Homo sapiens: one gene and its partner. The protein of the gene in region 1 interacts with the protein of each later gene in a pairwise test. Each region holds a gene or a part of one and is shown in the gene's direction. Other genes may lie near its edges. The genes, in order: STMN2 and CCDC85A.

Region 1 (3,834 bases):
AAAAAATATAACATTTCCCAAATAGGGCACTAAAAACATGATCCCAAATAAAACTAGCTTCAGGGTTTGCAGAATATACTGTTACTCAACACAAAGTTGGACTAAGTCTCAAAGTTAGCCATTCAGTTGTTGTTAACAGTTCATTTCAGGGTCTCTCAGAAGCTGGGAAACTTTCCATTTTTGCAATTTCTTGTACATTGAAGGAAAGGAAGACACACTTAAGACAGCATTACAAAAGTAATTCATGTTTTAAATGTTTAATTCTGGCAGTCGGGCAGGGCTCTCTGTATAACCTCATTTGGAGATGACAAAAATCTAAACTTGAGGGCCTCGAGCCAATAAGTCTTCCTATTTCTTTACTCAAACATTTTCCCGCAATGGTGCTTTCTTTCAACTGTTTTTCTGGTGTATTCATAAATTCCAGATTCTCTATGGGAAGTAACTTTTATTGATTGATTTAACCCTTGTATAGCACATATAACATGCAAGGCATTGTTCTAAGAACTTTCCACATATTAACTGTGTTAATCACTTAATAATCCTAAGTAGGTTCTATTACAGATATGGAAACTGAGGCACAGAAAGTTGAAGTATCTTACTCAAGGTCACACAGTTAGTCAGATCCAGAATTTGGGCCCAGGCCATCTGGCTTCGGAATCCATCTTTCACCGATTGCTGCTAGTCTCATATCTGTTCCATGTTAGAGGTGAGCTCCCATTGCAGAGGTCACACCTGTGATATCACCATTTTATTTAAACAGACCAGAGATGGTCTTCTCCTTTCTGATCACAGACTCACCTTGAAGAGAAAATACTTCCAAATTGATGCCTAGTTTTAATAGCTTACCTGGGGCTTATTCAAATAATTGCCATGATTTAGGCTTTGGGAGAAAGAGAGCTATGAGGCCGTGTGGGTTGTAACGTATGAGACACATGGCGTTCTGCAGGCTCAGCACAGCATCGATTTCTGGTGGGAACACACTCTGATGACCAGTTCCAGAAATAACATTGACTTAATCTCCTCAGTCCCATCATGGTTAGCACATTTCAAAATGCCTCCTTAACTACTTCCATAGGCCAGAGATATTTAGTTTTAACATTTTGTTGAATAAAATAAATTTACACATTCACATTTAATATAACTATTAGATGTTATTTCAAGATTCTCTTCATATTACCATCAAAGCAGGCAGGCAGGCAGGAGAGAACTGTAGGAAGGTTTTGAATCCCTTGTGAAACATTTTTAATTATCTTTTAATAAAGGAATCAGGCCCTGTCATTTGTCAAGGAGACATTTGCAGTAGTAAAGCTTGTGTTTATAATATCCATTTTTATTAGTCATGATTAAAGATAACATTTGTGTACATTTGTTCTCACAAAACACTTTTATATGAGTGTAAAGGTTAATTAATGCATTTCAGCCATCATTTTGCTGGTCATGTGGAAATATAGCTTCTTTAGGAATTGTACTTAGAGTAGGAGCCACATATTATACTATAAAACCATAACAAAAATATTTTAAGTTTGTTCTCACTTGTTGTTGACCTCCAGAGTAAAATATTTAATACTCTGGAAAGTTATGGGTTTCAAAATTTATTTTATGGCAAGAAATAGATAATTACAGTTCTCATAGAGCACATTTAAAATAATTTATTTTTATAGGGCAAAAATATTGCCTAGGACTGAATGATTTTTTTTTTTTTACAAAGATTGTAAAGCAACGCCTGCAAGAGTGCCCATTTAGCAGTTATTCTTCTGGAATAATTGTATTTTGGATGTTGGAGTTCGCACATTAACCATTAGTACAAGTACCCAATATAACAATAGATCATCAGGATAATAAATCTGTCCATCTTTTAGTTGTATGTCTTTATATCAGGATAAAGAGAATTGAGTGAAATTTATCTAAACCTAGTCCCACAAATACTTTTACAAGAGAGCATGTTAAAGTGTAAATTAAATTTTTATTAGCATTCTACTCTGTCTTTGGAAGTTTTTTTTCCTTATGAAATGCAGCCATAAAGTTTAACTTCCATTAACAAAGCTGCTCACAGTAAACCTATTATAATAATAGTTTCCCAGTTTGGGCTTCCTAGTGAGGAGCAACCTAACTCACACGAAACAACCCCAACTTATAATATATTGACTGTTACAAAACTGAGACCAGAAAATCCCATCAAGATGGTACTGTTATCATTTCCAGACTCTCGGGAAGAACATTAATCATCTCAGGCACTTTTAGGATAGACTTATTGCAGCCTCCCTGGGAACTCTGCTTCAGAACATAATTATTTTTATTAATGCAGAGTTACTTTTTATTTCCAACAAAAATATCTATTGTTATTATTTAAGTCTTACAGCTTTATCTGAGAAATTCCAATTAGCACCCTTCTCATAATAAATATTCAAACACATGAAAAATTACCAAAGTTGTTCTAGTCTTTTAATGACATATTACATGATCCTGCACTCTTGTCACTTTAAAAATTATCTTTTTATTATATTTCTGATGATTTTTTTCTTATATAGTTTTTTAAAAGGAGCAGGCAAGCATAGAAGACTAAAAAATGTTCAAAAGAAAAATTAAATCGCATGATCTATCTATATGGGACCTTGTCATTTTTAGAAAACATTCACCTGCTTCATCCTTTTGAATCTTCATATAATCCCTCTGAGATGGGCATACTATACAAGTTGTCTTATTTAAAGATTGGTAAATTTAAGCTCAAATAATTTATTCAGTGGCAAGCCTCAGAGGCAGACTCGGAACACAGGTCTAATATATATTATATATATATTATAACATATAATATATATATTACATATAATAAAGTTGTGTATATTATTTACCTATCAAAATATTTATATGTAATATATAAATATGTTATATATCATGTATGTGCCTATTTCATACATATATACACATTCATGCAAAATAAGGTTTAGCACTCCCTCCACTGTCCTGTAATAAAACATGCACAGTGAGAATAGTCATACACGAGGCATATTTGTCTTCAGTTTAAAGTCATTGATAGTCAGTGTCACTAACTAAAGTAAAATAGATTGGAGCACCAACTTTGTTCTGAAGCCTGTGCCAGGTATTATGAGAACAAAAATAAAAATGTTCCTCACCCTTGGTGGATTTAGTCTTTTGCAGAAAAAAAGATCCTGTACATGTCAGAAAGTTCAATAGTAATAATGGTAATTTATAACTATAAATGGAAGTCACCATCTCACAATTTCACCATCTTAACAATTTTGTTAAACTGCCCTACAATATTACAAGATAGTACATAATGATACACTAGTAACATCAACTAGGAAGTACCAAGATCCACCAAAAGGCTGAAAAATTTAAATATTTAATGAGTCCATCAACCAATCTGGCCAGAGAATTCTTTAATTAAAATGCTTCCCAAATTTTACTGAGAATCAGCAGCGTTTGAGGAGCTAGCCTCCACCCCCAGAGGTTCTCACTCTATTAGGTCTGAAGCAGGTCCCATGGATTTGCATTTCTAACAAGCTCCCAGGTGGTGCTGATGAGGCTGATTCAGAACCACACTTGGAGTAGACCTAAAACAGCAGTGACCTGTAGGGTCCCCAAGCAGCAGGCCAGGACAGCATGTGAGTTACGTCCTCTGTGGAGCTCTGCAACAAGGCGTCAAGAGGTCAGAGTCTAAGTCCCCATCAGCTCTGCCCTTCTCCACCAGTGCTGCTGGTGCTGCATGGAAGGAAGAGCCCAGAAGGGATTCTGAGTTTCAGTCTTTACTCTTGCTGACGCACCTTGGTCAGGTCAATTTTCCTGTTTGTTCCTCTAATTCAGCATCTGTAAAAT
Region 2 (3,834 bases), on another chromosome or scaffold:
AAAACGGCCCACAATTTAAAACTTGTTTATTTCTGGAATTTTCCATTTAATATTTTTGGGCCCTGATTGACTACAAGTAACAGAAACTGAGGCTAAGGGTGGAATTCTGTACTTCTATCTCTTCTCAAACTGTACATGTGTTAAAATTCATGATGACAGAAGAGATTGTGTCATGAAATAAAATACTACTGGTGGGTTTGTTTTCTCTTTGCTCTTCATTGTTTTCCTTTTAAAATTTTTTTGTGTTCCTTTTTGCCTTTTATGTTAAATTCACAGTATGACTGTCCTAAGGCCCTTGACTGAAAACATCTAACTTCTTACTTGTTACAAAGAAACCTACAAAATCTAGTTAGTTTATTATACATGGTTGTGCCATCTCTCAGGCGACTGGGAATGTAAAAGAAATAGAAAAAAAATCCAAGTGATTTTTGTTCTTAGTTTCCTTCTGAGAAGGAATTGAGGCTGACATCAAACAGCAAACTAATAGCATGTATGCCATCTTATCAAAAAAAAAAAGAGGCACAACAAATGTGAAAATGATGACAAGGCTGATTCTTAAAAACCTGTGAAAGTGAGTGTTAGAAGTCTTGAAGGAAAATCAGAAGAGTCCTTAACTATACTTGATGTGTCTATGTGTATTGGAATACATAGTACTTGCATAGTTAAGACTAAGCAAGATTAAACAACTACTCAATTTAAAGTGTTCAGTTATATCCTTTGAAATACATTACTATTTTGCTACCAAGGAAGGTTTTTTGGTTCATTTTGTTTTGTTTCATTTTTTTCTCTCTAAGAAATGGCTAGGAAAGATCATGTTTTATTGATGCTAAGATGTTATTGATGTGGGATGCACCATCATGATATGTAGCATTACAAAAGAAAAATGGTATCGGTTATACCATGCCAGATTCTTGCAGATTTCAGCGATGTTACAAATGGGAAAACAATGTTTTAGTTTTAGTTATTTATTTGTCAAAGTAATTTAGTTATTTACTTGTCAAAGTAATTTAATACAAAGAGAACCCATTGTTTGAAATATGCTGTTGGACATATGCAAAGAATGCAGTAGATCTGTCAATTCAAAAACAGGATTTCTGTTAAATTTCTATATCAGAGAGTGGTGCCTTCATTTACTACTAAGATATAATAGAGGTACCAGTTGCAGCTACTCCTATAAATACAAACTAACATGAATACAGACAGTAGGTAAGACCCTAGGATGGAACACAATAAATGGATGTCAGAACAGTGAGCATCATGTAGAGAATTCTCATGGGAGACTGAGACTTCAGCTGGATTACACAAAGGCATTTACCTGTACAACTTACTCTTAGATGTTACTGATACTATTACAAATAATGTGTCATGAGATTTCCCTGCAGAAACTGTTTCTAACTATGATGTTAGCTGATTTGCAAGGTCAATTCAATGAGAAAAGCTGACATCCTAGCCTAAGTTAATCTCAATATTAGAACACTTGATTTTCAGTTATAAGAATTTGTTTGCTATGCCTTGATCAGAAGGTATTCCTTTTCACTCCCAAATTTATTAAAGCGTGTCCATTTGTCTTTGAATAAACAGAAGTAAGAATGTAGCTGGCAGCTGGAATCCCAAGTATGTAAAACACCTTTGCAGCTGTAGCCAGAATTTTTGCTTTTAGTTTAGAGTTCAGACTAATTATGTAAAGCACTGTCCTGGAGGAAGAAATCTTCCTCAATGCTCCTTTTTATTCTTTATATAAAATTGTATATAATGAACAGAAAGTCACAACTTTGCCCTAGCAATATAAATATTTAAAAATAAACACAATGAATATAATAAATGCTTGTGGATTTCTCCCTGGTTAGATGCAAAGACCTTAATTTTTTCATTTGTAAATGAAGGGGTTCTTCTCAGCTCTTACATTTTGTGGGCTCAGGGGTAAATAAAGGCTTGGGCCCATGTTTTATACATATACAAAATGTTCAAGTCCCAGAATGAAGGACTCTTTCACAGATAAAGGCAGTGAAGATTAAGTTAGTTTTATCCAGTGGTGAAGAGGAGCCCACAGGAAGTGCTGATGGAGCCTCTGTACAGCCACCGTGGCAAGTCATCCCCAGTGAATGTAGAGCTCCTTGATCTGCCATGGTGTGTACTGTGTCCTGCAAGAATCACTGAGCAGTATTTTAAACCCAGTTTGTGAACACAACATTTCAAAGGTATCCTAAGGTAAGAGCCAGTCTTATTATTTTTAGAAAATGCTGCATTATGTGCTAGTTATTATTATTGAGAAGAAAATGCCTCTTCAAAGTTAGTACAAATGGTAGTTAAAGGTCACCTGGACTTTAGGATATTCTTCCGAGCACATGAACAAATGGGAACATTTTTTACAGATCACAGTTAAATCTTTTTCAAAGAATTGCATATAATCTCTTACAGTACACATAATACACATAATGCTAAGCTGCTCACATTGGCTGTCAGTTCCACTGCATGGATATGTGATGTGATGTGAACCTCAAACAAAAATCGTGCTTAAATAAATTTATTTAAATAAATATAGCTGCTGTCTATGAGATTTCATTAACTTTTGAATCCAGTGAGATGGAGTCACTCTGAATAATGTAAGTAGACATTTGTAAATAATGACATAGTAGGGTGTAAAGTAGTTTTAAGGAGTTTTGTATCAAAATAAAAAGGAACACACCTATCTTCTATACATACTTACAAATAAATACAGGTTTTCTCTATACAAAGAATCATCAATTTCCAGAGCTGGATAGAACCTTATGTGTCACATAGGACAACCCCCCTTTTCAGTCAAGGTGTATTGGGTTCACAGAGGTTAGGAGCGTCCTCCTGTCAGGCAGCCAGTGAAGGCCGGGCTTCATAAAATGTAGGCCTATTCAGTGTTCTTTCTAGCATGTGCACAGTGGCTCCCTTAATCCGTTCATACCATTAATATGATTCAGTGTAATTAAGCTACTAAACCTATTTTTATCTTATTGACAAATTCATTTTTTCCAACATTTATCTTAAAAACTAACATTGGATCTGCTTAGCCATCTGAGATTTGTTAGATGTTTATTGCATTCCTGCTTTAAAATAAATGTTCAGTTTTTCTTAACGCCATGGTATACAACATAAATAAAACAAAAAGTGCATTTTACAGGGTCTTCTCCCTGACACATTTCCATAGTACTTGAAAACCATAAAGGTTTATTATATACACACAAATTCCCACCCCTGCATGGAAAATTTATGCTTAACAGAATGTGGTAAGAGAGGGCCTTTTGGTTCAGAGTGAACTGGAGGAGGGTGGATAGGGGGAACTGATAGTTACAGTCATGGTTTTAAAACTGAAATTTTAAAATTGAAATTTGATTTTTAGCCCAAATTCAAAAACCTTGCTTAGCTCTTTCTACTCCATTCATTATCCTTTTCTTGATGGTCACAAAGATTTTTTAATCCAGACATAGTCGATATGTTTATATGCTGCATGTGCAGTGAGGCCTATTCAACTAGAAAATATCTTTAAATGGATGATATAGAATACCTACCTGATGAGTTTATTATAAAGTAAATAGTACTACCCTTTAAGACATCAGTTACTATTCACATGTAATGCTGAGGTAAAAGTTATTATTAAACTATTCTCACCTATTTTGTGCTGACTTGGGATTTTGCATCACAAAGAGACTCGACTAGAGACATGAACAAGCAGTTTGCTGTAGCTCCTAAGTCAATTAAATACATTTGTTAAAAGTCCTATTAGGAAATTTGTTCTTTTTGATCAAATGCTCTGGCGCCCACATCTGCTTGGAAAGCAGTATATATTCGTTGTGCTCAGAGACC

What was found.
Region 2: the proteins of STMN2 (region 1) and CCDC85A interact in a two-hybrid assay, tested with the Homo sapiens proteins (one large-scale study listed by BioGRID and IntAct).

What each region holds. Positions count from the first base shown.
Region 1 is NC_000008.11:79,617,380-79,621,213, forward strand, and holds part of STMN2 (stathmin-2), read left to right. Parts: intron 1-3,562; exon of another isoform or gene 3,563-3,583; intron 3,584-3,752; exon of another isoform or gene 3,753-3,825; intron 3,826-3,834. UniProt on the Homo sapiens protein: Regulator of microtubule stability. When phosphorylated by MAPK8, stabilizes microtubules and consequently controls neurite length in cortical neurons.
Region 2 is NC_000002.12:56,344,425-56,348,258, forward strand, and holds part of CCDC85A (coiled-coil domain-containing protein 85A), read left to right. Parts: intron 1-3,834. UniProt on the Homo sapiens protein: May play a role in cell-cell adhesion and epithelium development through its interaction with proteins of the beta-catenin family.